3 separate regions of the Homo sapiens genome follow, and regions 2 and 3 are each linked to region 1. The links come from fine-mapping of genetic effects on gene expression. A gene starts in region 1. Each other region holds a variant in brackets. All regions are shown on one strand. Distances are between the middles of the regions.

Region 1 (7,391 bases):
AAATTATAAGTATAAAATTGAATATTAGTAGACTAAATGGGGTAAATTATTCCATAAAAGAAGTTTCTTCAGAATTTCTATTGAGAATAGAAACATCACATTTATCACTTTTCAAGTGATGTACTTTTACAAACCACATGCAGCAAGACCCTTATTCAAATACCTTAATAAAATATTTTTATATACATGTCAGATAATCTTAAAATGTTAGAGCCTAAGATCAGCTCCTTTCACTGATTTCCACCCCCCTCCCACAACTAAGGATAGACTACTCTAGGAGAGAATGTGGAAAGAAAAACCTTTCTTCTCTGTGTTCATTCTTTAGACTCACAGAGACTGTTTTGTTAATAATCAAGCATTGTAGTCAAAAGCAAATAGGAAAGCAACTCAATTTTTCATTGAAAAACATTTATCAAAAAAAGAAAAACATTTATCTTTTTTTAAAAATGCAAAAGCTGTTGTTGCACTTTAAATGTAATTGCTCTCATTGCTAAAGAACATAATTTGGGTGAATAGTAAGTTTCAAAGGATAATTAGGCACTTTACACAAAAGAGAACATCTGCAATCATCCCAGGAATGATGAAATTACAGGGCTATCAATCCTTGTGCTTCAGGGCATGGACTGATCACCAGCTGGAAGACAGAAGATATCCCCTCAATAGTATAATATTTCTATAATATTACCAATTACATTTCAATTTTTATTCCCTTTTAAACATAAGTCATTGGGGGGCTATAAAGCACATTATGGCCAAACAGTGCAACATGAGGGGAAAATCTTCAAAGGCCTTCAAGAATATTTTAAAGAAATGGATTCAAAGAAAAATAGTAAACTTTTGGCTGGGAGCGCTGGCTCATGCGTGTAATCCCAGCACTTCGGGAGGCTGAGGCAGGTGGATCACTTGAGGTCAGGAGTTTGAGACCAGTCTGGCCAACATAGTGAAACCCTGTCTCTACTAAAAAAAAAAAATGTAAAAATTAGCCAGGCATGGTGGTGCACACCTGTAGTCCCAACTACTCAGGAGGCTGAGGCACGAGAAACACTTAAACCTGGGAGGTGGAGGTTGCAGTGGGCCAAGATTGTGCCACTGCACTCCAGCCTGGGGAACACAGCAAGACTCCAGTCTCAAAAAAAAAAAAGGAAAAAAAAAGTAAACTTTCAGAGAAGGTGAGCAGAATATCATAGAAGTTAACAAAGAACATTTTGGGTACTTATCACATTCAGAGCTTGAAGAGAGTAGAACTCAGCACTTGTTGAATGAATGAATGAATGAATGAATGAACAAAGGAACAAACTTATATGTGTCCGGGTTCCAATCCCAGCCTCACCATATTTGACCTTGAGTACTTAAGTGTCTTTGCTTATCTTCAGTTTATTTATCTGTAAAATGGGAATAATTGTGCCTACCTCTTCTTGTAATTACAGGGATTTAACCAAGTAATGTATACAAATAAATAAATCCCCTGTTTGGAACAGGGTGAACTCTCAACAAATGAGTCATTTTAAGAGCTCTCCTAGGATTGACTGATTTAGCTAATTCCTAAACAAACAGATCTAACAATGAAATCATCTCAAGCGACTTCATAATAGACCAAATCTTTCTATATTGACTATATTATAAACCTGTGTTGTTCTTTTTGCGAACCCAACACTGCATTACACCATGAGACATCCTCTAAAATTCTTCTTTACTTTGAACTAAGCATAAACTTTCTGCTAATAAGATCTCTTAGATGATATACTATTATAAGCAGAGTTCAAACTCATACAAAGTGTAACAGCTGCTCACCTTGCTGGTCCAAGATATTGTGACTTGTGGTCAAATGCATACAAAAGCCATAAAAGGACACTCCTTTCTAATATTTTCTCAATAATTAACTTTCATTACAATTCAATTAATACTATATTGAATATAATTATTAGTAATTTCTCTTGGGACCTATAAATTAAGTGTATCCTGCAAGTGCAGCTAATGTCCCAACCATACCTGAAGAAATTTTATCTATGTCTGTAAACAGAGTGCATATACCTTTGGATGCTCTGGTCTCAACTAGTTGAAAGCCAGCTTAAAAATAAATCACGTCACATTTATGATTAACATGGCTTTAAATAACAATGGGGACTTTATTCCCCCACACAATGATCAACTACTGTTCTCACTGCAACTAAAGATGTTGAAAAGATAACCTAGTTTATTGGACAATTTCTACAAGGGCAGTGTAATAAAATGTCCATTTTTTTTCTGGACAATAAAGTACTTTTAAATTATCAACATAGCTGCATATAATCAAGTTATCTCCTGTCTGGAAGGTGGAAAATTGGAATATTTCTAGAACTTGCAAAGAGTTTTTGTCCTTTACTTCATGAATCATTCAGCAAAAGCCGGCTATGTACTATTTCAAATGTTACTACCTCAGAATGTCACTTGACTCAAAGATTTTCCTTTCCTTTTCTTCTTCCTCCCTCCCTTTCTTCCCTTCCTTCCGCCTTTCCTTTCCCCCCCCCTTCCTTCCTCCCTCTCTCCCTCTTTCCCTTCTTCCCTCCCTCCCTCCCTCCTTGTACAGGGACTAACACTAGAATCACCGCCTCACCATGCCCCTCGTTGGAAGAAACAGAAAGGCACACGATGCTGTAAGCTATGGCAGATGCCCAGGGCACGTGGGGTTGAATAATGCTGTTTGGAGTGAAACACTGAGACTCCGCAGTCACACAGTGATTCATTTACAGAGCTTTACTAAACTACGGGCACTCAGAAATAGACAAACTGTTCTTGCCTCAACCGAACCAAAGGCCCAGCGGGCCTCGAAAAAGCTCAGCCAGGTGCTTTGGGAGGCCGCGAGGAGGAAGAAGGATCCGTGGAAGGAAGCACGTTCACACCACGGCACTGAGGCCTCTGGGCCGAGCTATAATTTAAAGCATGAAACGAAGGGGTCATAGATTCTGACTAATGCTGACCATTTCCATCGGTTACCCAGTTGAATCTCATGTCGACACTAGGAAATCGACTTTATACATGCTCTTTAGGAAACGAGGGACGCAGGATGAAAGAAGCCAAGAGTGTCGCCAGGGCTTGCGCCAGCGCCGTCAGACTCCCGGGATGGGGGAGCTCCAGGGCACGGCGTCAGCGGATTCACGGAGAAGGAGAAAAGCCCCACTGCCGTGCAGAAGCCTAGGCCCGGGTGAGACGCCTGCGAAGGCTGCCAGCAGCGGAAGAGAAGGGGCGTCCTCCGTGCTGCGCAGCACTCGCCCGCGGTAGGTGGGCGCGGAGCTCAGAGCTGGGAGCCAAACGCAAACGCTGGCGAGAAGCCCCAGCCCCCTCCGGCAGCCCACTCGCTGCGGGGAGGGGTTTCTCACGCCCCCAGCTCCTGGGAGACTGCACCGGAGGTCGGAAGTAAGCCGGGCGAGGATGAATCATCCCGCCTAACTCCTCCTTCCCGGTCCCCTAGCCTCCGCACGCCGGCCCCCTTCAGAGATCTTGCAGCCGCGAGCGAAGACTGCCCTATCCTCAGACTCTACCGAACCCCCTGTGGCCTGCGGAGACGAGGAGACGGACGGGTCTGGTGGCCAATGAGAGCTTCGATCTCTTGCCCCCCGCCCAATGGGCCGCTGCTCATGGGCCGGGGCGGGACTAGGAGGGCAGGTAGGGGCGGTCCGGGCTGGCGCGCGGCGCGGCGGCTACGCGGCTGCGGCTCACAGAGCTAGCGCCTCTCTGGGTGTCCGTGCCAGTGCTGCGCGGGAAGGCACCACCACCACAGCCGCCGCCGCTGGCCAGGGTGCTGGACAAGACGGGCCCGTCGGCCACCTCGCCAGCTCAGGCACCCGCTGCAGCCGTCGCTGTCTCCTCCCAGACCGGTCCCCATGGAGGAGATGGAAGAGGAGTTGAAATGCCCCGTGTGCGGCTCCTTCTATCGGGAGCCCATCATCCTGCCCTGCTCTCACAATTTGTGTCAGGCGTGCGCCCGCAACATCCTGGTGCAGACCCCAGAGTCTGAATCCCCCCAGAGCCATCGGGCCGCGGGCTCCGGGGTCTCCGACTATGACTATCTGGACCTGGACAAGATGAGCCTATACAGCGAGGCGGACAGCGGCTATGGCTCCTACGGGGGGTTCGCCAGCGCCCCCACTACCCCGTGCCAGAAGTCCCCCAACGGCGTCCGCGTGTTTCCCCCGGCTATGCCGCCACCGGCCACCCACTTGTCACCGGCCCTGGCCCCGGTGCCCCGCAACTCCTGTATCACCTGCCCCCAGTGTCACCGCAGCCTCATCCTGGATGACCGGGGGCTCCGCGGCTTCCCCAAGAATCGCGTACTGGAAGGGGTAATTGACCGCTACCAGCAGAGCAAAGCCGCGGCCCTCAAGTGCCAGCTCTGCGAGAAGGCGCCCAAGGAAGCCACCGTCATGTGCGAACAGTGCGATGTCTTCTACTGCGATCCGTGCCGCCTGCGCTGCCACCCGCCCCGGGGGCCCCTAGCCAAGCACCGCCTGGTGCCCCCGGCCCAGGGTCGTGTGAGCCGGAGGCTGAGCCCACGCAAGGTCTCCACCTGCACAGACCACGAGCTGGAGAACCACAGCATGTACTGCGTGCAATGCAAGATGCCCGTGTGCTACCAGTGCTTGGAGGAGGGCAAACACTCCAGCCACGAAGTCAAGGCTCTGGGGGCCATGTGGAAACTACATAAGGTGAGTCCTAAGAAAACCCACTCCTAACTCCCTGCGTCTCCGATCATCCGGTTTTGCAGCAGACGGTCCCCGTCTCTTGCGCACAGCGCATCCCAGTGGGGGCGCAATGCAGGTGCCTTCGATGTTTACCTCCCTGGTCTGGTGCATTGCAGGAGGCATGGGGGAATCTTAACCGGCGCACGGGGGAGTTGAATGCCCCCACAGAGTTGTTGCGGGGATGCCTTAGAGCGGGTCTCTCGGGGCGCGCTGCCTGCGAGCGGGACTCAGGGCGCCCCCTTTCCGCGGCGGGTCTGCAGCCAGTGGCCGCGGCCAGTGTGTGGGAAAGCACTGCATAGCTGGGTAGAGCCGCGCCAGTGCCCAGGGCCGCTAGGCACGCTCGAGGGCAGGGCGGGCTGCGAACCCTCGGGGAGGGACTGGGATGGGGGCGGTGGGGTCGCGCGGACGGCGGGAGTCTGTCGCTGCTGGATAGGCGGACCTGGTGAGGCACGGCGGAGGGTCGGGGAGACGCCGCAGGCGGAATACTGATGAGCCCGGCTCTGGGCCAGACCTGGCTCTCGAGCTGGAGAGAACGCGGGGTCCTGGTGCCACGTGCTCAAAAGACAGAGCGGAGAGGGCAGCCAGCGGTCGCCATGGCAACGCGACGTGCAGGCTTGGGCCTGAACCCTTCCGGAGTTGGGACCTGAGACTAGAGTGTCAGGACCGGAGTTTGCGCAGTCGCGGCCTGGAAGCCAGACAGGTGCATCTCCTAGGGAAACCTTCTCCTCCCAACTATACACACACCCACTTCTCCGGAATTCAAGCCCTTTCCTCTTTCAGTAGTTATATGTGCAAACTTTGGGACACCTGTTACCAGATTTATCTTTCCAGTCTCTTTTGATGATATTTCCACCATGGCTAGACACGAAGAGGCTTTAGCAACATATTCTGTCGTGCCACTCCTCTGCTCAAAACCCTCCAATTTTTCCCACGCTTCTCAGCCTGTCCTACATGACCTCTTCCATTTTGGCCCCTTCGACCTCATTGCCTCCCACTTACTCCCTCTGCTCCAGCCACACTGCTTCTTACTGTTCCTCAAACGACGCCAGGCACCTCCCTACTCCAGGGCCTTTGCATTTGGTGTTCATTCAGCCTGAAGCTCTCTTCCCCAGTTACCTGAGATCCGAATGGGTCACTTACCTGCATCCTTCAGCTCTTTGCTCAGGTATCATCTTTGCAGCGCCACCCACCCAGACACCCGCTAGTTCCCTCTCAGCTTTATTTTCCTCAGTAGTATTTATCCCTGTGTGGCATGCTATATATTTTAATTATGTTATTTTTTGTATTTATCTATTGCTCCCTGTACACACACAGACATAAACGAAATAAGCCTCATGAGGAAGAAGATCCTTATAATATGCCCACACTGCTTAGAAGGAAGGGAGCAACTCTTGAGGAGATGTGCATGAATTTGCTTTTCATTTTTTAAATGATCCATTTAGTTGGGGCTGTGGAGTGCAGGGCAGGGATTCAGGATGGTTGGAAGGAGCTTTTCTTTACATCACTGAGTTGCATACCCAAGGATGAGATGGAGCAGTGAAGATAGTGTCCAGGCCTCAGCTGTGGCCTTGCTCAGAGTCTCCCAGAATTCCTTGGAGACTAGAAAGGGTAGCTTTTGCAAGTGGCCAACTGTGGAGTTAAGGCTGGAACATTGATATTTTGTTTACAGCAAGAAAAAAATGTCATTAATTTTCAGCAATCAGTGAAAGTTTTCTCAACTCCTTAACCCGGTTGAATGTGATCCATGTTTACAGTCATTCTATTCTCACATATAACCTATTAAATCATATTAGTACTGATGGGGATTTCATTTAGCACAAATTGAAGCCTAACTGGGCACACACCACTGTTTTCAGAACAGTCGAATTTAAATTTTTGAAAATGACATTTAATTTTGAAAGTTTTCAAAACTTGAGTTCACAGCTAGTTTTTTATTCATATTTTGATTTCACTTTTAAACTGCTAATTATAGTCCATGTTGAATTGCCCTACAAAGTATCCTTGGAACTAAAAAATTAATCACTCTGTCAGGAAAAAGAATTTAGAGCCACAAGGTAATTAGGATGGGTAAACCACAACATTATTATTTTTTTTATGACAAGCCTATCCTTGATCTATTAAGACCAAAAGAAACCTTTAAATCTCTGTCAAGCCCCATGTCAATTTGAAATGTTAAATCATTTGTTTTATTGGCAATAGAAATTATGAGTAGACAGACACTGGTGCTGCCTGGGTTGAGATTTAGATATCTACCTGCCACAAAAGAATGTTAAAACCCTTGAAACATGACATAAGTAGGCTAGAAGACCATTTATTCTCTGATCTTTTGCACATTTTTTCCAAAACAGTAAGGACACATAATTTTTGTTCAGTCAATATGAGGATTACTAAACTGCCAAGAAAAAAAATAAGACAGAAGGATGACAGATTTTAACATTCACTTGTCATCTGTTAGATGAACAACAAACATTACTCCCCCACCTTATTTACTTAATAAGGAAGTTAATGTGTTAGCAGCCAGTTTTCTCATATAGTTTATGTTTTAGTTAATGGTACTTCTATCTCCACAAAAGCCCATGGGCCAGAATTTCTATGCCCTGCAAAAATAGGACAGCAAAGAACTATACTAACTAGGTTTCCAAAATTGGGCAGTTAGTTATCAACACAGGTTAT
Region 2 (7,391 bases), 100 kb after region 1:
CATTTTCATCTTTGCCAGTCCCTTCAGTCTTGGCTAGGCTACCGAGAGCCACCATACAAGGTTCATCTCTAGAGAATTTTTGCTTCTTAGCTATACTTTAAATATTTTGGTCATCAAAGACAAGTAATGTGTCTCAGATGAGAGGCTTGAATTTGATGGCCAGATATAACCTCTGAGGCTTTTAACATTTTCATTTTAAGAGTAAGCAAGACACATGAAATTAAACCTACAAGGAGGTATTTGTGGCTGGTGCCAAAGCATTCTGACACTTTGGGGTGTCATTTTAATCAAAGAAATCACCCCCCCACCTCACCGGGATTCTCCATAACTTCCCTCTGCAGAACTAATTATGTTGATTTTGTTCAAGTTCAAGATGTTAGCTAAAAGAACTATGGTGGTGTTTTTTTTCCCACTTCCCACAAACCTCAACATGTGCCAGTCACCCTAAAATGCTTCACATGGTTAAAAACAAGCACAATTTTGAATCCTACAGCAAGGATGAAAGGCCCCTAGCCGTGAAAACAGTGCTTTGGGGAGCAGTTGTCAGTCTAAGTGATGCTATTCCAAGAGAAGGATATGCTGAGGGAAAATGCCCACATGACCTGTTCCCATTTGGAGTACAGTGATGTGGTAGCTACAGCTTCCCCCAGAATTATCATTTTAGCACCTTCTCTCAGGGATGACCTATCAGTTTGAGAGCAGTTGCCTCTTTTCTCAAAATACCATACTAACTGCTAAAGCCCTCCAAGAGTCTTTCCTAGATGCAACGCAGAAGGCCCTTGCTGGTGATGGCCTCATTTCCCATGTGTGTACAAGGTGGTTTGATTGAAGAGTGAAGTGCATGCCTGCAGAGCAGAGAGAAATTTGTAGCAATGTTGCTAATATGTGTTATCAGATCTGCGGGAAAACTATTTCTATTCATAATACATCATGGGAATCATACTATTCTGGTAAAAATCAGTTATTAGCATAACAGCCTGAGCACTTATGTCTCTCGTTTCATCCTGCAGGAGGATGTAGCGCCTCAGTTTATTTTAATGTTCATAAGATTATGGTGTCTAATTTAATAAATTACAGGATTGGAACTGCGATCCTTGGTACCACAGTCACAGAACTGGGGGTCATTTTCTAGATGAAACAAACGGAACAAGTTCTCTTCCAACAAAGAAACTGTACTGTAGAAATTAATTTCCTCCATGAATTTTATATATTGTGTACAAATATAAGGTATGTATCTGAATACAAAGAAAAGCCTATCATCATATAGATATCAGTATTCTCTGTTACTGCACAGAAGTAATTTTCTCATGATGAAATAAAGTTCACACACATACTTTCTCCATAACTTTGGTTTGTTCTATTTGTTTCTCCCTCATTCTAATACATTCAGTGAGACAAGATTTAGAAAGCAAGAAAAAATATAGTGAATAGCTTATTTTAAAAAAAAAGATATGATCGATCTGTAACAATAGACAAAGCCTATAGGATCAAATAATTATCTCTTTTTTGTTTGTTTTTTAGAAATCAGTGAGAAAAATGCTATTAACAGAGTTTTGGTACATTCACTGCACTTATGCTTTATTAATCTTATTTCCTACAGTTTCCAGAAAGGTTTGCTTTAGAGATTTTTTTTTTCTTTGCTGGTATTGGGGGTGGTGGGGTGGTGCGTTCTGGCTTTCTAGTGTAACAAAATCTTTCACCTTCTTCTTAGCAAGAGTTAATCCCTTTTCAAACTTCAAAACAAAAATTCTGTATCACAGAAAGGTAAAATTTCATATGCGGTAACAAGTCTAACTTGTAATCACATGCATTTAGTCTGAGGTTTAAATTGCTCATCTTTTGTACTCTGTGAGCTTTCACAAAACCTTTTGCTGATCTAAAGGTAACGTTATGCAGGGGAGATCAAATGTCTACATTACTATAAATTTTGATTGGTTTTTTCTTCGAAAGCAAATTTATCTGTCTATTTATTGGGCAGTGCTTGATAAGTGACCACTGTGTGCTAGGCTGTGGGTATAGAGTGTTGAACAGACGTTATCCCTACTGTCCTGGAGTTTACAAGCTAGAAAAGGAAACAAGCCTTAGAGAAATAAACATATAAATAGTTCCATTTTTACACATTGTGATAAACACTGAAAAACAGGGAAAAGGGATTAGCAGGAAGATAAAATTTTTATAGGAGAATTAGGAAAGCAATAAAAATTAATTAAATTCAATGGAAATTATAAAGAACATGCTATTAAGAGAAAAGGAAAGGAGTCAGGTGCCGTAGCTCATGCCTGTAATCCCAGATACTTGGGAGGTTGAGACGGGAGGATCCTGTGAGCCCAGGAGTTTGAATCCTGCCTGGGCAACATAGTGAGACCCCATCTTAAAAAAAAGAGACAGAGAAAAGGAAAGGAGAATGCATTATTATATGAGTCCAAGTGTGGATAGTTCTCTGAAAGCAAAGTTCCTGGAGATGTATCAAAGACACCCATGGAAAAAACGCCAGTTGCACATCTAAACCAAATTACACTGACTTAAGATGAAATATAACTGTAAGCAATTAAGAATTTTAATGAAATTTTCAAATAAGGCCCCCAAGCCCCAAAACTTGGTCATGGGTATCTTTAAATTAATTCATCTAATAGCCATCATGGCTGTGCCAGTCTTTGAAACCATCTGCAAAAGAGTATCTGTTGAAAACATTACACAGCAAGGCCATCTTAATACACAGAGTTCTAAGGTTTATGCTATGTGTGAGACAAGCTGTACTCCTGTTTTAAAAAATCATACAGGGCTGAGAACAGGATAGGACATTTTCTGTTTATTTTTCTCTAGTTTCCCTCTTCCTATCTAAGTAGATTCTGCCTACAAAGTCTATTTAGGTAGGGGCTAGACATCTGACTTTGTAGGACAAAGTCTATCTATTTAGTCTATTTAGATAGACTTTGTGGCTACAAAGCCAGACATGTAGCATCTTCCAATCTCTTTCTGACCTTTCTACCTTCCTTTTTTTTGAGACAAGGTCACACTCTGTCACCCAGGCTGCAGTGCAGTGGCACAATCATAGCTCACTGCAGCCTCCTACACCTGGGCTCAAGGAATCCTCCCACCTCAGCCTCCTGAGTAGTTAGGACTACAGGCATGTGCCACCATGTCTGGCTAATTTTTTAAATTTTTTGTAGAGATGTGGTCTTGCTGTGTTGCCCAGGTTTGTCTCAAACTCCTGGCCTCAAGTGATCCTCCTCCCTTGGCCTCCCAAAGTACTGGGATGACAGGCATGAGCCACCATGTAGCCCCTACCTGCCTTTGATAAGGATCCTTGTGATTACCTTGAGCCCACCTGGATAATCCAGTATAATCCCCCCATCTCAAGATCCTTAATGTAATCACCTCTGCAGTGTCCCTTTTGCCATGGATAATAACATATTCACAGGTTCTGGGGATTCAGATGTGGACATTTTTAGATGGCCCATTATTCTTAGTACTATACTTTATGAGGAAGGTATTATTATTGTCATCTTTCTCTACTTATGGGAAACTGAGCTGCTGAGAGGTTAAGTATAATAATATGTCAGATCCAGGACTTTAAGCC[G/A]CCAATGCTCAGCACAGTCCGCTGTGGTGCTAACATTAGAAAAGTGCTATTTGCCCTCAACCAAATGGAAAGAAAGAGAGGGAAAACTATCCAAAGTCTGTCTGCAAGGTGACTGAAAACACCTTGTCAAAATGAAGCAGCGCTGTGTAGCTGCCTCATATGCTCATCCAGAAATCCCAGCCAGAAGGAGGACTTTACTACTTGCAGTCATGTTGGGCAGATCTCCTGAGGTCAAGAGTTCGAGACCAGCCTGACCAACATGGAGAAACCCTGTCTCTACTAAAAATACAAAATTAGCTGGGTGTGGTGGCGGGCGCCTGTAATCCCAGCTACTTGGGAGGCTGAGGCAGGAGAATCACTTGAACCTGGGAGGCAGAGGTTGCGGTGAGCTGAGATTGCACCATTCCACTCCAGCCTGGGCAACAAAAGTGAAACTCCATCTCAAAAAAAAAAAAAAGAGTCTTGTTGAAAAGAGTAGCGTTCCAGCTTTAAGAAGATGTGGGAGTGGCCATCATTTCCAGCATAATATCCAAACTCTTTATCAGGTCCTGTGCTCATTTTCATGTCTTTGCAGAAATTTCCTCCAGCTCCCTCCCATCCCAGGTGAGCAGGTCACCTAGAGAGGCCCTTCCCCCACTGGTACCAGTGGATACTCTTGGCTGGCAGTGACGAGATTTGCCCGGGAAGGAAAAGGAATATCAGAGCTACATCTCTGAGGCTCTGATACTACCAAATGAAAGTTACTACCAAATGAGGTCTGGCACTCAGAGCCCTGCTTGGGTTGACATCACAGAGCCATTTATTCACAGAAGCTTTCCAGCCCTGCCTGTCCTAACTGGGAGGGAAAATGGGGAGAAGGTAGTCAGTGATAATTAGAGAAAAGAGGGCTGGCTCTCAAGCCATCTACCCAGCATTTTTCAGGATTGTTTTATCTAATGACAAATAGGTTGGGATTCTTGAAACTACATCTTAAAAACTGCTTTCTAAAAAGTGGGCCTAGACAATGTTACTCATAAAGATTAAAATGTCTTTCTCCCCGATTAGACTCTCAGCATCACGCTGCCCCTTTCATTGTAGTAGCTCCTTCTTCTGTGCATTGAAGGAAACCACCCAGAAAAGATGTAATGGTGCAGACAAAATATAAACTTATGCTTCCATTTGTCTGAATGCAAATTGGCCTCAGATGCATCTGTCCAGAATCTTTTTGCAATTACTTATTTATTTATTCATTCATTCATTCATTCATTTATCTTTCCAGAGACAGAGTCTCACTCTGTCACCTAGCTGGAGTGCAGTGTCACGATCGTGGCTCACTGTAACCTTGACCTCCTGGGCTCAAGTGATCCTCCTGCCTCAGCCTCCCTAGTAACTGGCTCTATAGGCATGCCACCACACCTGGCTTTTTTTTTTTTCCGTAGAGACAGGGTCTCACTATGTTGCCCAGCCCGGTCTCAAACTCCCGGCCTCAAGCGATCCTCATGCCTTGACCTCCCAAAGTGCTGGGATTACAGGCATGAGCCACCGTGCCCAGCTCCTTTGCTCATATTTAATAGTGATTTTGGTCCAGCATAAGTACTGCACCCTGATGTGCTGAGACCTCCAGAAATGCTGTCACCTTGTGAGGAACAAAGAACCTGTCAGAAGAACAACTACAGGGAACACCTCAGCCCATCTAATCCCTCTAGCCAAAATTCCAAGGAGGACAGTGATGTGTGTGCCTTTCCAATCCCTAACCACTACATAAACTAAACACTCTATTTAAAGAAGAAAAGATGTATCCTTAACACAGTTAGGGTTTATTAGGTCCTCTACACAAACCTTGGTCCCCACTGAGACCACTGAAATGTGCCCTGGGGCCAGTGGCATAAGCTTTACCTTTTGTATATTTCTAGGTTACAAAGGAGCAGCAATAGTCTTGTCACCCCAAAATTTTATCCTCCAGGAATTGATCCTACCTGAGTCTCTATTGTATCCCTCCACAGCTGTGGTGTAACTTGGATATGTCCCTTAGCCTCTCTGGACTTCAGTTTTCTCATCTCTAAAACCATGGACTTACAGCTGAGGACCTCTGAGTCTTTACAATTAGTACCTTTGTGGCTTCTCTCTCTAAAACTGCTGTTGAAAGTTGTTTCAGAAAATGCTATGAAGCAGCATTAGATACCTCCTGCCTCCTCCAAGGGTCATAATGAGTCTTAAAGTTATGCCTATGATACTGAAAATTCAACACTAATAGAAAATGATTGATAAAGGATCATATAAGGAAATGTATATGGTCTACTGAAAGATGGTTTTTCTGTCTCTGCTTTTCCTGACCCAGAGCATCTGGGCCTCTCCAAAAATAGTTAGAAGAATATGCATTTCCAGGACAAAGTTCTCAAGGTAGGTAATCATACCTGACCATATTTGGGTAAATTTTACAAAATCCAAGGTGAGAGGCATAATGATAGGTTTCAGAGCCCAGAAAAGAGAGATACTTTGTTCTTTTAAATTTTGACACATGCATGATATCCCAGGGAATTTCTTGCATTTTTCCATGGGACTGAGATTCAGAACCCTATTTTTGGTTCTGGGAAGTGTGCTTTGCAACTGATACCCTGGAAAGCAGTTTCATTCTTTGGAATCCTCTGTATGTAATTGAAATACAGGAATTTTCAGTTCCTCTGATGATAGTTCCTTATAAATAATGCCATGGTATTCTAAATTGGAGTGGAGAACTTGGTGATGAAGTATGCATCTGTCCTTGGGGTGGCAAAAGCTGTTTCATTCTTCTAAAAGAAGGTTTTCAAAACAGATTTGTTTCTCACTTCTCAATTGCAATTAATGCCACACTTAACAAAGCTTAAAATACCACCTTTTATTATAAATTATGTACCAGTTGGACATAATTGTGACTTTGGCTGCTTATAAGACCATTTATGAAAACAGCCTCATTCTTCATTCATTTCTTTGTCTCTTTTAAAATCTTCCCAACAAAAGCAAATTATTTTACAGCTGGTTTATAATTGAGTTGAAACTCATCTTTAACACTGTACAATTCTTCGTGACATGTCTTGCCTTACCGTGCTCCAAAATACAACCATCTTATTGGACCTGGGTTCAAGGGCTGCTTAAGTTATGAAGTTGTTCACTGCCAGACAGGAGGACAACCCAGACTTCTACCAGGACACAGAGGGCACTGGATTAGTATACACTATCATAAGCAACCACAATCTGTTTGCTTTTCCTCTTTAGATTCCAAAAATAACACCCCAAAGGCTACCTTTTCAAATATTCTACAACATCTGCAAAAATCTTTAGTACTCTGTCCTTGGAGTCAGTCAAGAAATTCCACCCCCAGAAGTGTAAAAACCAATCAATAATATATGACACTGATTTTCTCTAAATTATTATTTTTCTTATGGTTGAGTCTCCTGCCAACTTTATGTTTCCCAACGGCTCAATTCTACTGCAATGTCTGGCACATGACAGGTGTTCAATAGCGTTGGCTAATGAACAAATAAAAGAAATATATGGGCTGGGTGCCATGGCTCATGCCTGTAATCTCAACACTGGGGAGGCTGAGGTGGGAGGACTGCTTGAGGCCAGTGGTTTGAGACCAGCCTGGGCAACATAAAAAGACCTTGTCTCTACAGAAAAAATTAAAATTGGCCAGGTGCAGTGGTATGCACCTGTAGTTCCAGCTACTCAGGATGCTGAGGGAGGAGGATCCCTTGAGCCCAGGAGTTCAAGGCTGCAGTGAGCTATGATCAACACCACTACACTCTAGCCTGGATGACCAAGTGAGACCCTGTCTCTAAAAAAGAAATAAAGA
Region 3 (7,391 bases), 710 kb before region 1:
ATTCCTCACTGATTATCAAACATTTTTATTCATGTAACTAACTGCTAAATTGTAACTTAGAGTTACAGAACTCCTTATGGTAGCTTAACCCCTTGCTACTCAAAGTGTGGACCATGTATTAGTAGGCCAGCTTCCCCTGGGAGCTTGTTAGAAATGCAGAATCTCAGGTGCCACCCTAGACCTACTGAATCAGAGTCTGTGTTTTAACAAGGACCCCAGAAAATTCCTATACTCATTGCAGTTTGAGAAGTGCAGTCTCTTTTTTTTTTTTTTTTTTTTTGGACAGGGTCTTGCTCTGTCATGAGGTCATGGCTCACTGCAGCCTCTATCTCCCAGGCTCAAGAGATCCTCCTGCCTGAGCCTCCTGAGTAGCTGGGACTGTAGGTGTGTGCCACCACACCTGGCTGATTTTTAAAATTTTTAGTAGAGATGAGGTCTGAATATGTTGTCTAGGCCAGTCTTGAACTCCCAAACAAAAGGAATCCCCTTGTCTTGGTCCCCTAAAGTGTTGGGATTACAGGCATGAGCCACTGTGCCAGGCTGAGAAGTGCAGTCTTAACCCATAAGACAGAGAGGTGTGCAGGAGGTAAGTCTCAACAATGTAACCATTTTTTGAGCACGGTGGTTCCTAAACTTGTCTGCACATCAGAATCACCTGGAAAGCTTTAACAACTACAGATGTTTGAGTCCCACCCCTAGAAACTCTGATATGATTGGTCTGGAGTACAGCCTGGGCATTGAAGTTTGTTTGTTTGTTTGTTTAGGGCTTGGGTCTTGCTCTGTTGCCCAGGCTGGAGTACAGTGGTGTGATCACGGCTCACTGCAGCCTCAACCTTCTGGCTGATCCTCCTGTATCAGCCTCCCAAATATCATGTCTGCTAATTAAAAAAATTTTTTTTGAAGAGATGAGGGTCTCACTGTGTTCCCTAGGCTGGTCTTGAACTCTTGGTCTCATCCAATCCTCCCACCTTAGCCTGCCAAAGTGCTGAAATTACAGCAGTAATACCAACATTACTGGCCCACCATGCATGGCCTGCCACTAAAATGTTTTGTGTTTGTTTGTTTTGAGGCAAGAACTTGCTCTATCCCCCAGGCTGGACTGCAGTAGCGTGATCATGGCTCACCGCAGCCTCAACCTCCTGGTCTCAACAATCCTCTCCCTTTGGCTTCCCAAGTAGCTAGGACTACAGGCACACCACCATACCAGGCTAATTTTTAAATTTTTTGTTGAGATGTGGTTTCACCCTGCTGCCCAGGCTTGAAATGTTTTTAAACCTTTCCAGGTGATTCTAATGTTCAGGCAAGGCTGAGAAGCACCTCCCCTGAAAACCTATAAGTTAGAAATGATTTCAGCTGCAAGCCATAGAAAAACCAAGTAATGGTGGCTTAAGCCAGTGGTTCTTAAACTTTGCTGCGCATTAGAGTCACTTCAGGAGATTTTAAAAATTGTGATGTCCAGGCTGGATCCCAAAGGGTGATGATTGAACTGGGATGGTGTGTGGTCTGGTGGTAGATATGTGCAATCAGGTTGGTTTAGCAATTCTGTGACACTTACCAATACCCTGCTCTTCTCTCCCCTCTGTCTTCTATTGGATGGAATTCTAGCTGGGATTCCCTATCCCCGTGGGCAGCTGGTGTGCCGTGTGTTCTTGCCAATGGAATGCAAGTAGAAGCATGTGCCATTTCTGAGAAGCCAGATAAAACATGTTAGGCGGGCTCCTTCATGCTCTCTTCTCCTCTTCTTTCTGGAATGGCGATGGCCAAAAGAACCTTGGAAGGCATAAACTGAAGACAGCTTTTACCACGAATTCTTTCAAGAAGATGTGAAAAAGATCCACCCCTCAACCTGACACTCCCAACCTGGACTGTTACGTGAAAGAGAAATAATCATGTATTTGTGTTGCTTGAGCATTTAGCCATTTAGTAAAAGTAAATGCATGAGACATAATCCGTTTTTATCTTTGCATTACTCCTGTGAGACAAATATCATTATATCCATTTTACAAATGAAGAAGCTGCGATACAGCAAGGTTCAGTAACTTGCCCAGAGTTACACAGCTAGAAGGTGAGAGAAGGGGTTTAAAGCTAAGGCTTTCTTATTTCAAATCCCAGGCTTTTAACGACATACCATGTATTCTCCCATGGATTTTTGAAAGTAAAAACATCATAGTTGGAAAAAATGAAGAGTTGATACAGAGAAGGCTGATACAGAGAAAGCAGCTTACATCTGTGTCTTGAAGACTGAATGTTCAATTCTGTATTCAGTAGCTTGTTGCTCCATAATTGTCAGCTGCATCTTTTTGCCTCAGCAATCAGGTCTCCATGCCTCCTTCTCTCTCACATCTGCTCTGTGTGCCCACGTGTCTGATCTACATGCTGCTGCAGTGTGGGTCTTCCTAAAAAACTATCTTCTCATGTCACTTCCTCCTGGGACAGCTTCAGAACCTACCAGTTAAAGCTCAAATTCCTTATCGTGGCACGGAAAGCCTTCCTCACCTTGCCCTGCCCTTACCTTCTGATCTTTTCCTACACCATCTCTCTGTTTCAGTCAAATGTGCTTAATTCACTTTACTAAGCCATAAACTTTCAGGGTAAGAAGGAACTTTAAAGTCAAGTAATTCAAACCATCTGTATCAGTTAGCTATTGCTGTGTAACAAACTACCCCAAAACTTAGTGCTTTGCATTTCTAACAATTCTCAGGGTGACTGGGTCGTTCTTTTGTAGATGTCACTTGCGGTCACACATATGGCTCCATTTGGCTCTAGCTGGGCTGGACGGGAAGTTCATGAAGGCCTCTCTCACACCATGGGATCTTTGTGTTATCAGCCGCTGAGTTCCAGGGTTCTTCCACATGGCCTCTCACTCCACGAGGCATCTCGCTTCACGAGGCATCTCGCTTCGTGAGGCATCTCACTCCCAGGACTTCTGCGTGTGACCTCTTGCTCCACAAGGTGTCTAACCCTCTGGGGCTTCTCCATTCGGCCTCTTGCTCCATAAGGTGTCTCCTCCTCTAGGCCTTCTCCACGTGGCCTCTCACTTCACAGGGCGTCTCATCCTCCAGGCCTTCTGCATGTGGCCTCTTGTTCCATGAGGCATTTTACTTCTAGGCCTTCTCCACATGGCCTCTTGCTCTGTGAGCTGTCTCATTTTCCAGGGTTCTTCCGCATGGCCTCTCTCTCCAGCAGGATAATCTTAATGTTCTTATCCTTGGTTTCTAAAAGGGAAAAAGCAGAAGCTATTGTACTTCTTAAAGCTTAGGCCTCTAACATATACAATGTCACTTCTGCCACATTCTATTGGTCAAAGCAAGTCACGGAGCCAGCCCATATGGACTCCATCTTTGGAAGCGAGGAGTGGCAACGGGAAGCTGTGGCAATCTTCTCCCTCTCCCTCTACATACCTCTGCCTCTGACTCTTCTGACATCTCTACCTACTGTTCTTTCTTAGCATAGCCATATTACAGAGTTTAAAGAGTGGGCTCCAGGGCTACCCTTATCTAGGTTTGAATCTCAACTCTTACCTACTCTTTGAGCTTGAGCAAGTTACCAAACTTCTTTGTGCTTCCATTTGTTCAACCATAAATTACAGGGAAATATAAATCCTACCTTAGAGAGTTGTTGTGAGAATTAAATAAGCTAATACAAAGGTCTGGAACAGTGTCTGGCTTTAGTAAGTGCTTCATAAATGTTAATTA[G/A]TAGTAGTATTTGGTGGCTCTAGCTCTCAGTTTGGTGCAAAACACAAAGAAGTCAGGTGAGGCCTAGGGTTTAAGCTCCAGGGCAGGGGAGATTAGAAGTAATATATACATAATCCCTAAGGAGTCACCGTTGCACCAAAATGCCTTGATTTAATTGATTAATGAGAAATATTTCAGGGGAGGGTGTCTAAGTGCTTCTTCAGCTTCTGAAGTGCTCCTCCTATCATAGAACCCCTGTTTCTGTAAGGTGGAAACGCACAACCCATGCCCTGTAAGGTAATCTCACAGTCATCTGAGGTTCCATTTACCTAGTCATGTTGCAACCCTCATCTTATCAAACCTTGGACTCCCAATACTGAAATTCCCTTTTTACAAGGGCACTTTTCAGATCCAAAGGAGAAGTCTACGGCAGAAGCTTGTCCGCAGGATTCTGGATACTAGCAATTCCAATCTTGGCATGCAACACTCAGCTCTGAGGAGCAATGATTTACAGCAGCAGAGTCTGGGCAGGAGACCCAGCAGCTCCTGCTACACGTGACGGAGCACAGATCCCCGAGTGAGGGCAAGTGGGGATGAGCTAAGGGAATGAATTGTGAGCTGAGGGCAGACCTCTGCGGATATTGCTAGCCTCTCTCCCTCTGATCATTAGTCATATATTCTGTGGCTTGTGAGTCTTATTTTTCCAGTTCCATTTGTTTTGTTTCATGAACAGGTTAATCATTGCTCTTACTAACAGAGAGAAAGAAAAGCATGATTTAAATTCACTCAAAGGCTGAGAGTAATCATACTAATGCATTAGATCAGATGATGCTTTGGGGCAAGATTGCTATTAGTCTGCCATAACTCATCTGATAGTTCTGTAATAAGCCTTCCTGCCATTATTTATTATTTGTTTTGTAGCATGAAATATACAAAATATAGTTACAGAAATGAAAGTGGTATGTAGAACTTATGCCTAAAATTCTGAAATACATTTGTGTCCTTACTGTCTTCGATTCATGTAATATTTTTGGAGTACCAAGTATGTGCTAGGCACTGGGAGCAAAAGGGAATATGGGAAAGGGAATCAGGTGTTTATTGAACCCATACTCTTGTCAAGGCAGCCTGACAATATCAGATTCCTAGTGGGTCCTGGAAGTCATAGTCTCTGTCCTCAACAGCTTATGATGGTGCGGAGATGGCAGGCACACAGACATGAATAGATACAAATAAAAATCAAAGACAACATACTACCATCAAATACTTTGAGGCTAAGTGAGAGTATGGATTGTAAGTGTGAGCTCCTGTGGTCATGCAAGTCTTTCTTCAGCCCCAGGGCCCTGGACAGCTACAGTCTGGAGGGCTGTCTTTGTAGTCCAGAGCCCTGTTTCTGGAGGAAGGTTCCATGGAGCTCACACTTAACAATCTCAGCATGGGCTTGGAGTCCAGGATAAGGTTCTGGGCCTACCATATACCAGCTGTGAGAATCTGGCAAGCTACTTGACTCCTCTATGCTTTGGTTTCTTCATCTATAGCTTGTACATGAGTTAAATCCAGCTCAGAGGGCGGCGATGAAAATTAAATGAAGATAAAATACTCAGACTAATCACATCATCAGTACACTCTAAGCTCCAGATCTTAGAGTTTTTATTGTTTTGGTGAATGGAGAGAAAGGGGGAGGAACAACATCAGAGGTTTACAGTAGAGGCTGATCTAAGCCATCTGTTACAGGACAAGACTAATTAGCCTGGGGTCATCGCAGCCTCTCCCACTCTCTATCCAGAGTGTGTGGGAGATAGAGAGAAATGGAGGAGGATGGGATTTGCTGCAGCCAATCTCTTGTATTTCCTTTGACATTCTCCCAGAGGATCCAGTAGGGTTTCAATTGCTTTTCCATCATTCTTGCCCTCTAACTGCTCTTTATGTAAATATGGCATGGGCAGAGACTGGCAAGGGGGGGTTCTGGTTATTTCCTCCTAATTGGAAGTGATCTCAGCCACTCTGAACCCTCAGGCCACGTTGTTTGAACTCCCTTAAAAAAAATCTTGATATAGTTTGTACCATAATATGTTTCCTTTTGCAGATGTCATACGTCCCTGATAAATCTCATTAGGATAAAAGCTGGACCTTAACTTGCTTTGAAATCTTGCTTTGCACAGAGTAGCTTGTGATGATTATTGTCAAAATAAAGAGAAGGGTATTTTCTAGGGTTAGAGATAAACCCACTACTGGAAAAAGAAGGCTCCAACCGTAAATAGTGGAAATCTTAAGAATTTTATAATGTCAATCTTGAATGGGATTTTAATTCATTCTAGGAACTGGATGGGAATCTTCAATCTGAAGGGAAGATTTAACTACTTGTTTTTATTTCAGATACTGGCATTGGGCAGGGCTGAGAAGCCTCTGCCAGCCTTGGGCCAGGAGGGGCAGCCGCACTTTTGTTCCCTGCTGAGGTATAGCACTCTATTAAGATGTGCTGGAGTGGGGGCTGTAATGTAATTGGCTTCCCAGTCAGATAGCTGTGACCATCATTTGAAGGCAGGAGAGATATTTTAAAATGAATTTCACTTTCAGCCTAGGATGCCAAGGAGCTTCTTCACTGTACAATATGAGAAAAAAGCAACATATCATCCATATTACAGTTTAGAAAATATCACAGGAAAGGAAGATACACAGATAAATTTTGGATTTATCTTTTCCAGTGGTATCATTGCATAAGACATTCTTATAAGCAAAAATGGAAGTTTACAAGTAGTTTAATATTTAGAGCATTTAATTCACTCCTTCCCATTGCCCCCAGGCTGGGGGGCACGAATGACACAGGAAGGCCAGTCTTCATGGCGTCCCATTGAAAGAAGGACTTCAGGGAAATAAGAGGGACAAGGTACGTTCTATAAACCAAGCAGAGCGTGACCTATTGTTAAATGCCCTTTTGAGGCTGGAGGCTCTTGAACAAGGCTCTTCAACTCTGGATGCACATTCCTGTCATTTTTTTTTCCTGTTTGATTTTTACTTTTTATTGAGATATGACATATATCTGGTAAAGTGCCCTAGTCTTACGTGTAAAGCTTGATGAATTTTACAAGGATTTTTTACAATTTATAAGTAGTTTGTACTTTTATATTATATATAAATATATAATAAATACTGTGTAATATTTTATCAAATGCATATACAACAATTTATTCATTCTACTATTGATGGACATTTGGATTTTCCCATTTTTTGGTTATTATAAATAAAGCTTCTGTGAACAATCTTGCACATGTCATATCCACTCAATTCTAGGAGTGGAACTGCTGAGCCATAAGGAAGGCATATGTTTAGCTTCAGTAAATACCGCCAAACGTTTCTAAAATGTCTATATCAATTTCTATTTCTACCAGCTATGTAGGAGAGTTCCAGTTGCTCTCATATAACTTCTCCAACAGTTGGTATTATCCAATTTTTAAAACGTTAACCTGCAAAGCTTTGATAAGGTACTACTCTTCGAAGTCTTATGAAATTCTTCTGGGGCAGGATCTATTTTTGGAAGCTCTGTGAGTGTCTTTGCTTTCCCAGGCAATGCTAACATGCAGCCAGGGTTGAGAATCATGCCATAGAGAGATGTCCTAATTTGGCTAGTTATTGGAATCAACTGGAGAACTTCAAAAACTATAGGTTCTTGGGTTCTCTTCAGACCTGCCAAATCAGATCCTCCAGGAGAGGTTTTCCCAG

Which allele goes with the higher level. Positions count from the first base shown, and alleles are read on the strand shown. Sizes are in standard deviations (SD) of each study's normalised expression.
With allele A in place of G in region 2, the expression in lung of the gene that starts at base 3,695 in region 1 is lower (small effect, 0.34 SD a copy in GTEx).
With allele G in place of A in region 3, the expression in monocytes after triphosphate RNA of the gene that starts at base 3,695 in region 1 is lower (moderate effect, 0.55 SD a copy in Kim-Hellmuth 2017).

The links. PIP is the estimated chance that this variant, and not a neighbour inherited with it, causes the effect.
Region 2: its variant is the best candidate, but not a certain one, in a credible set for the expression of TRIM9 in lung (GTEx, PIP 0.63).
Region 3: its variant is the best candidate, but not a certain one, in a credible set for the expression of TRIM9 in monocytes after triphosphate RNA (Kim-Hellmuth 2017, PIP 0.65).

Annotation. Positions count from the first base shown.
Region 1 is chr14:51,091,409-51,098,799 of GRCh38, reverse strand. It overlaps TRIM9 (tripartite motif containing 9), which reads left to right and starts at 3,695. Exons shown (of 13, transcript NM_001387360.1): 1 at 3,695-4,682. The coding sequence starts at 3,861. RefSeq lists a silencer at 3,634-3,703.
Region 2 is chr14:50,990,018-50,997,408 of GRCh38, reverse strand. All of the region lies in intron 7 of TRIM9 (tripartite motif containing 9), which reads left to right. Among named protein-coding and RNA genes, the nearest start is that of PYGL, 49 kb to the right of the region's middle. The variant G/A (reference allele first, on the strand shown) is at 3,581.
Region 3 is chr14:51,804,445-51,811,835 of GRCh38, reverse strand. LOC101927598 (a long non-coding RNA gene) reads right to left here. Exons shown (of 8, transcript XR_002957605.2): 3 at 1,556-3,215. Among named protein-coding and RNA genes, the nearest start is that of GNG2, 52 kb to the left of the region's middle. The variant G/A (reference allele first, on the strand shown) is at 3,696.